2 linked regions of the Homo sapiens genome follow. The protein of the gene in region 1 purifies or fractionates together with the protein of each later gene. This does not show direct contact. Each region holds a gene or a part of one and is shown on either strand. Other genes may lie near its edges.

The links. The genes of interacting proteins can lie anywhere in the genome.
Region 2: the proteins of ENDOV (region 1) and VWA8 purify together in Homo sapiens (affinity purification with mass spectrometry; 3 studies listed by BioGRID and IntAct, with this or other methods). This does not show direct contact.

Annotation. Positions count from the first base shown.
Region 1 is NC_000017.11:80,434,527-80,439,322, reverse strand, and holds the end of ENDOV (endonuclease V), read right to left. Parts: intron 3,191-4,796; coding exon 3,180-3,190; coding exon of another isoform or gene 3,125-3,179; 3' UTR 1,237-3,124; downstream 1-1,236.
Region 2 is NC_000013.11:41,569,723-41,573,109, forward strand, and holds part of VWA8 (von Willebrand factor A domain-containing protein 8 isoform a precursor), read right to left. Parts: intron 985-3,387; coding exon 746-984; intron 1-745. UniProt on the Homo sapiens protein: Exhibits ATPase activity in vitro.

The DNA of each region.
Region 1 (4,796 bases):
AGGCCTCAGGGCACCCGTCAGATACCCCTTCCTGCCCCAAACACCACAGCTTATTCTAAAAGCATCGGTCCCACTGATAAGAGGCTCAGAGAGGCGAGGTGGCTTACCCAAGCACACACAGCACACAAGTACAGAGGCCTTGGTCTGGAACCCAGGGCCCTGGTTGCCTGTGCACAGCCACTTCCACCAGGACAAGGAGCCCCAGGCCAGGCCCTTCAGGGACTCTTCCGCAGAGGAGGCAGGACACAGGCCCTGGGGTGGGCGTGTACCAGCTACCAGGGTGTGAGGGGCGAGGCTGGCTCTCCTGGAGCTCATGCTGCCCTTGGCCCTGGAGGACGGGGCCCCCATGAGAGGTGCGTGGCTCAGGTCAGATGCTGTGCAAGGGGCCAAGGCCCAGCTCAGACCCAGATTCAAATAGTCCAATGCCTGTGGCCAGAGCAGGGGTGGGGCTTGGGACAGCTAGGACCACCAGAGGGGCCCCTCCCTGGGGCCTGACCTTGGCCAGATCCTAAAGGACCACTCCAGCCCTGGTGTGTCTTCTGATCCTGAGTGCCACAGGAGAGGGGACGCAGGACAGCTGGGGTCTCAGAGGCTCCAAAGGCCAGGCCCACCTGCTTCTTGGAGTCTTTCCCTCCCAGCCTCCAGGCAGGGTGGGGGCCTGGGAAAGGGACACAGAGGCCCGCAAGTGAGCAGGAAAATCTATTTGGATCTGACTTGAATTATTAAGTGGTTCAAGAATATTCTTAGCTCTGGGCAGGCTGTGGTCTGTAGAGACGGACTTTACCACGGCCCTATTTTTAAAGTTCTGTGGGTCGGAGTCAGAGTCGAGACGTCACTGCACTTAGGGCCCCCCTGCACGCCCCTCTGCCTGCCGCCGGGGAGTAGGGTGGGGACAGGGCAGGGGGGCACATGCCAACCCTGCAGACCCCCACCCTGCAGGGGAAGGGCGTGTGACGCAGGGATGGGAAGTTGGGGCTCCCCCACCTACCAGGTGCCCAGGCCCACCCCTGCCCAGCCCCTGGCCCGTGAACCTGCTCCCCCAATTCTAGCCCCCCTTGACCCTCACACCCTGTTTCCCCTGCTTCAATCCCCTGCACTCTACTCCCCCAAACCCGCCCCCCTCCCCAGAGCAGCCTTGGGGAAAGGGGCTGGGCCAGCTCAGGGCTGCCACTGCACATCCCCACGGTGGGCTGGCATCTCTGCAAGATGCTTTTGACTGAAGAAAAAAAATCAAGCTTTTGAAGAATTCAAGTTAGTTTTATTCAAAGGTCTTACTGAGAATCCTAGACCCAGGTCCCAGCCCGGGAGCAGCCTTAGAGAGCTCCTGTTTGACTGCCCGGCTCAGTGTCTCGGCCCACTGCTTGGTTACGGGGGCCGGGGCTCAGGACCTGCACAGTCACATCCATCCAGCTGGCTCCGAAGTTACATTACAGCAGAATCACATCAAGGTTTGGGCATAAGAGCACTTCTGGTTACAGATTACAGAAGCATAATCGCTAACCTTGGCCAACATTTTCTCATGTGCACGAAAAGCCAAGGACCAGGGTCCTTCACCTTTTAAGGAATACAGTGACTCAGGCAACAGACGCGGGGCCGTGTGTTCTTTCCTGTTTTGTTTTCAAAGCGTCTCTCTGGAGAGCTGCAGTGTCACAGAGTAAGGGCCCACAGAAATGAGCACACACTTAGGTTTGCTGCTGACACGCCCTGCCTCTCCTCATGTGGTTCATGTGGCCATCAGCCGGGGCTGAAGACCCCTGGCACACACCTGCACCCCAAACGGACTACAGGTGCCGCTTTCATTTCAACTCTCACCCATTTAGGGTTCGGAGCCCCACACCCACTTAACCCCAAGCCCAGTGGCAAAGCTTCCTGAGAGGCCCGGAACCGCCAGCCATGAGTTCTACACCACCCCCACTGTCCTCCTGAAACCCTGCTCCCCCAAAGACAGGCCTTACTGAGGACTTGGTGGGGTGCTGGTCAGGAACTGCCCGGTCTTTGGGGAGGGGGTGCTGGCTGTCCGCCTGGGGAGAGCCTGGGAAAGGCATGCAGGCAGATGTGGTTGGAGCTCCGACTCTCTGACTCTTGGGCTTAGGTGAGTCCTCAGCAGGTGCCCTGCACTCCTGGTCCCCTTTCCCAGCCAGATCACTGCTCAGCATCTGCAGAGTCAAGGAGGACTCTCCCAAAACCATGCACGGCCAGATGGCCCAAGTTAAAAGAAGATGCCAGTGACTAAAAGCAGGAGTGAAGGCAGGGACGTTCTCAGAGACCTCACACACATCAATAAAATCCCGTGAACGACGGTATGCCAACAGATGAGATAACATGGACGAAACGGAAAAACTCCAAGAAACACACAAGCTAGCAACTGACTCAAGGATGGACAATCCGAACGATCTATAACAAATACATAGATTGAATCGAATCAAAATCCTCCCAAAGACCCAAGACCAGATAGGCTTACTGGCAAATTCTACCAAAGGTTCTAGCAAGAATTAACACCAATCTCTCTCTTCCAAAAAAAACGGAGGAGAGAACATTTCCTAACCCAATCTATGAGGCTAATATTATCCTGATATCAAAACCAAAGGAAGACATCATAAGAAAACACCAGACCAATATCCCTTATAAATACAGATGTAAAAATCCGCACCAAAATACAAGCAAATCACATTCAGCAGCAGAGTAAATGGATTATACACCATGACCGAGTTAGATGTATTCCACAAATGGAAACTGGCTCAACATATGAAAATCAATCAATGTAACACCTCATATTCACAGAAGAACACAGGATCTTTTCAATAGAGGCCAGAAAAGCATTTGACAAAATCCAGTACCCTTTAAGGATAAAAACACTTAACAAATTAGGACTAGAAGGGACCGTCTTCAGCTGGATGAAGAGCATCCTTGAAAATCTAACAGCTCACATCACATCTAGTGGTGAAAGACTGCAAACGTTCCCTTAAGATCAGGAACAAGACAAGGACGTGTGCTCTCACCACCACGTTCGATCAGGAACGAGACGAGGACGTGTGCTCTCACCACCGCGTTCGATCAGGAACGAGACGAGGATGTGTGCTCTCACCACCGCGTTCGATCAGGAACGAGACGAGGACGTGTGCTCTCACCACCGCGTTCGATCAGGAATGAGACGAGGACGTGTGCTCTCACCACCACGTTCAACAAAGTGCTAGACGTTCCAGCCAGAGCAATGAGGCAAGAAAAAGAAATAAAAGGCGTTCAGAGTGGAAAGGAGGAAGTGGAAATGGGCCAGGTGCAGTGGCTCGCGCCTGTAATCTCAGCACTTGGGGAGGCCGAGGTGGGAGGAAAGCTTGAGCCCAGGAGTTGGAGACCAGCCTGGGTAACATGGTGAGACCCTGTCTTTACAAAAAAATCTTGAAAAACTAGGCCGGACACAATGGCTCACGCCTGTAATCCCAGCACTTTGGGAGGCTGAGGCAGGTGGATCACGAGGTCAGGAGATCGAGACCATCCTGGCTAACACGGTGAAACCCCGTCTCTACTGAAAAAAAAAAAAAAATTAGCTGGGCGTGGTGGCGGGCGCCTGTAGTCCCAGCTACTCAGGAGGCTGAGGCAGGAGAATGGCGTGAACCCGGGAGGCGGAGCTTGCAGTGAGCCGAGATCACGCCACCGCACACCAGCCTGGGCGACACAGCGAGACTCTGTCTCAAAAAAAAAAATTAGCCAGGCATGGTGGCACATGCTTGTAGTCCCAGCTACTCTGGAGGCTGAGCCAGGAGGATTGCTTGAGCCCAAGAGGTCGAGGCTGCAGTGAGCCATGATCACACCCCTGCACTCCAGTCTTGGCAACAGAGCGAGACCCTGTCTCAACAACAAAGCAAAATGGTCTGGGACAACTGGCTACTCACAGGTATGACATGGGACCTGCTCCCTTACACCATACACAAATTTAAGTCAAAATGGATCAAAGACTTAAAGGTAAGAAGCACTAAAACTATACATTTCTTAGAAGGAAATGTAGGTGTAAATTTTCATGGCCTTGAATTAGTCAATGGCTTCTTAAATCTAACATCAAAAGCATAAGCAACAAAATAGATGGACTTCATCAAATTTAAAAACTTTCATGCATCAAAGGACACTAACAAGAAAATAATGACAACCCACAGGAAAAAATATTTGTAAACTAAAGAAGTGATCAATATCTAGGATTCAGAACATATAAAGAACTTCTGCAACTCAACAAGATGACAACCCAATTTTTAAAATGGGCAAAGGATTTGAATAGATGCTTTGCTCACGAGGATATACAAATGGTTACTAGACATGAGAAGGCGCTCACCACCATTAGCCATCAGGAAATGCAAATCAAATGCACAATGAAATACCACTTTTTTTTTGAGGCAGGGTCTCATTGTCACCCAGGCTGGAATGCAGTGGCACAATCACGGTTCACTGCAACCTCAACCTCCTGGGCTTAAGTGATCCTCCCACCTCAACCTCCCGAGTAGCTGTGATTATAGGAGTGCATCACCATGCCTGGTTAATTTTTTAGTTTTCTGTAGAGATGAGGTCTCACTATGTTGCCCAGGCTGGTCTCAAACTCCTGGGCTCAAGTGATCCTCCTGTCACAGCCTTCCAAAGTGCTGGGATTACAGGCATGAACCACTCACTGTGCCCAGCCGAAACACCAGTTTCTACTCCAAGGAATGGCTAGAATCTAAGCGGCAGATAATAGCAAGTGGTGGTGAGGGTGTGCAGAACCTGGAACCCTTGGGCATTGCTGGTGGGGATGTGAACTGATGTAGCTGCTATGG
Region 2 (3,387 bases), on another chromosome or scaffold:
GAGCTCTTTCTGTTTGTAATTCAAAAAGATAAATGTTATTGTGTTCAAGTTATGAAAGTGTTTCCAGATCTCTCCTTTCAGATCATACCCACTGGTATTTATTGTCTGATCATAAGATTCTCTATTGAATATTTAGTATATTCAGTGTAGTATCTAACTATATGTATATTATCTTATGTTGTCGCCAAGTGTTTCACCTGCCTTGTCTCTCCAGCAATAAGAAGGGATACATGTGAGTGTGTCTATATATATATACAGGCATGCATATATGTAGGTGATGTCTCTATGGGGATATAATACATATGTGTGTATATATATGTCTAATATGTACAGACATTCATACACACACACTATCTCCTATGCTAGGAAAATAGTAGATGTTCACGATTTTTAATATGATTTGAACACAAAATGATTAGCCTGAGCTTAGGAGCTTGACATAAAGTGCCAAATGTATAAAATACTACCCGGTTTATTAGTGACAAATCAATTTGTCAATGATTTATTAGTGGCTTAAATATAAACTAAAAAATAATTAATTTAAAATTATTATTGTTCATCTAAACAAAAGCTAGAACATATCCCCTCAACTAGATTATAAACCCCTTGAGGCTAGTAACTTTAGTTTCTGTTTTTCCTCCATCTGCCTCACTGTCCCTCATGGTGCTAAGCCTATAAAACAGCATGTGTTAGCTACTCAGTATCTCTGTACCTGCCCTTTTCTGTATGCTCAGATGACACTTACCTGGTTGCTTGATCACCTAAAGAGCCAATAAAAATGGCAAAAGCATTTACTTGAGGGTCTCTTGTGAGGATTTGAGCAAACTTAGCAGGATGTATTCCATATCGTGACAGATTTGCATCACTCAAGACTATGACAAAGTACTCATCAGCTTCTTCTTTGACAATTTCCTTGATGGCATGTTCTGTCCCTTCTAACGTGTGGTCCCCACTCATGCAGAACTGAGAGTGGGCATGCATTGTCTGGAGGTAAAAGAAGTTGCACAAAAGCCATGGCTGAGAAACTTCTTTTTTAACAAATACGATTATTTTTCTATTGACCATGAGCATGCATACATACCAATTATTACCCATGAGTAGTACATTCTAAGTTAGTTCTATTTAATTTGCATATTTGAGTGACAACAGTATACAGTGATATTTGTTATCTGGCATAGAATTTCATTAGATATAGGATATCATTCCAAAATTATCACAGTGGGCACTTAGTTTTAAGTGGAAGCTTGCACTTCCACTTAAAGTGAGAAAATATAAGAAAATATAAAACTTGGTATCACATTGGAGGATGCAGATGACACAGGAGGAAAATAAGGAATGAGTTGAGTTTCCAATAAACAAAGGTATAATACTAAAAACATTGTACTCACGTCAATAACGATGGAGGAAAGTGACTTAAAATTGTGATGTGCATTTTTCTGTTGCAGGCTTAAGTGTGTGAAATGAATTACACATAAAATTGGGGACAGGGAGCACTCTAAAAGCGGTCATTCTGCTTACCAATGATATGATTGTATATCTAGAAAACCCTGTCCCTCTCCCGTCTCCCTCTCCCGTCTCCCTCTCCCTCCTCCCTCTCCCTCTCCCGTCTCCCTCTCCCTCTCCCGTCTCCCTCTCCCTCTCCCCGGTCTCCCTCTGATGCCACCAAAGTTGTCAAAGCCGAGGCTGGACTGTACTGCCGCCATCTCGGCTCACTGCAACCTCCCTGCCTGATTCTCCTGCCTCAGCCTGCAGAGTGCCTGGGATTGCAGGTGCCCGCCGCCACACCTGACTGGTTTTTGCATTTTTTGGTGGAGACGGGGTTTCGCCGTGTTGGCCGGGCTGGTCTCCAGCTCCTGACTGCGAGTGATCTACCTGCCTCCGCCTCCCGAGGTGCCGGGATTGCAGACGGAGTCTCGCTCACTCAGTGCTCAACATTGCCCAGGCTGGAGTGCAGTGGCGTGATCTCGGCTCGCTGCAACCTCCACCTCCCAGCCGCCTGCCTTGGCCTCCCAAAGTGCCGAGATTGCAGCCTCTACCCGGCCGCCACCCCGTCTGGGAAGTGAGGAGCGTCTCTGCCTGGCCGCCCATCGTCTGGGATGTGAGGAGCCCCTCCGACTGGCCGCCCAGTCTGGGAAGTGAGGGGCGCCTCTTCCCGGCCGCCATCCTGTCTAGGAAGTGAGGAGTGTCTCTGCCCGGCCGCCCATCGTCTGAGATGTGAGGAGCCCCTCTGACCGGCCGCCCAGTCTGGGATGTGAGGAATGCCTCTGCCCGGTGGCGACCCCGTCTGGGAATTGAGGAGTGTCTCTGCCCGACCACCACCCCATCTGGGAGGTGAGGAGTGTCTCTGATCGGCTGCCCCGTCTGAGCAGTGAGGAGCCCCTCCGCCCGGCAGCTGCCCGTCTGCGAAGTGAGGAGCCCCTCCGCCTGGCAGCCGCCCCGTCCGGGAGGGAGGTGGGGGGTCAGCCCCCGCCCCGCCAGCCGCCCCGTCTGGGAGGGAGGTGGGGGGCGCCTCTGCCCGGCTGCCCCGTCTGGGAAGTGAGGAGCCCCTCTGCCAGGCTGCCACCCCGTCTGGGAGGTGTACCCAACAGCTCATTGAGAATGGGCCATGATGACGATGGCGGCTTTGTCGAATAGAAAAGGGGGAAATGTGGGGAAAAGAGATCAGATTGTTACTGTGTTGGTGTAGAAAGAAGTAGACATGGGAGACTCCATTTTGTTCTGTATTAAGAAAAATTCTTCTGCCTTGGGATGCTGTTAATCTATAACCTTACCCCCAACCCCATGATCTCTGAAACATGTGCTGTGTCCACCCAGGGTTAAATGGATTAAGGGCGGTGCAAGATGTGCTTTGTTAAACAGATGCTTGAAGGCAGCATGCTCCTTAAGAGTCATCACCACTCCCTAATCTCAAGTACCCAGGGACACAAACACTGAGGAAGGCCGCAGGGTCCTCTGTCTAGGAAAACCAGAGACCCTTGTTCACATGTTTATCTGCTGACCTTCCCTCCACTATTGTCCTATGACCCTGCCAAATCCCCCTCTCCGAGAAACACCCAAGAATGATCAATAAATACTAAAAAAAAAAAAAAAAAAAAAAAAGAAACAGGCCGGGCGCGGTGGCTCACGTCTGTGGTCCCAGCACTTTGGGAGGCCGAGGCTGGCAGATCACAAGGTCGGGAGTTCGAGACCGGCCTGGCCGGCATGGTGGAACCCTGTCTCTACTAAAAATACAAAAAATTAGCTGGGTATGGTGACATGCGCCTGTGATCTCAGCTGCTCGGAGGGCTGGGACAGGAGAGTCGCTTGGGTGTGGGAGGCGCAGGTTGTAGTGAGCTGAGAATGTACCACTGCACTCCAGCCTGGGCGACAGAGCAAGACACCGTTTCA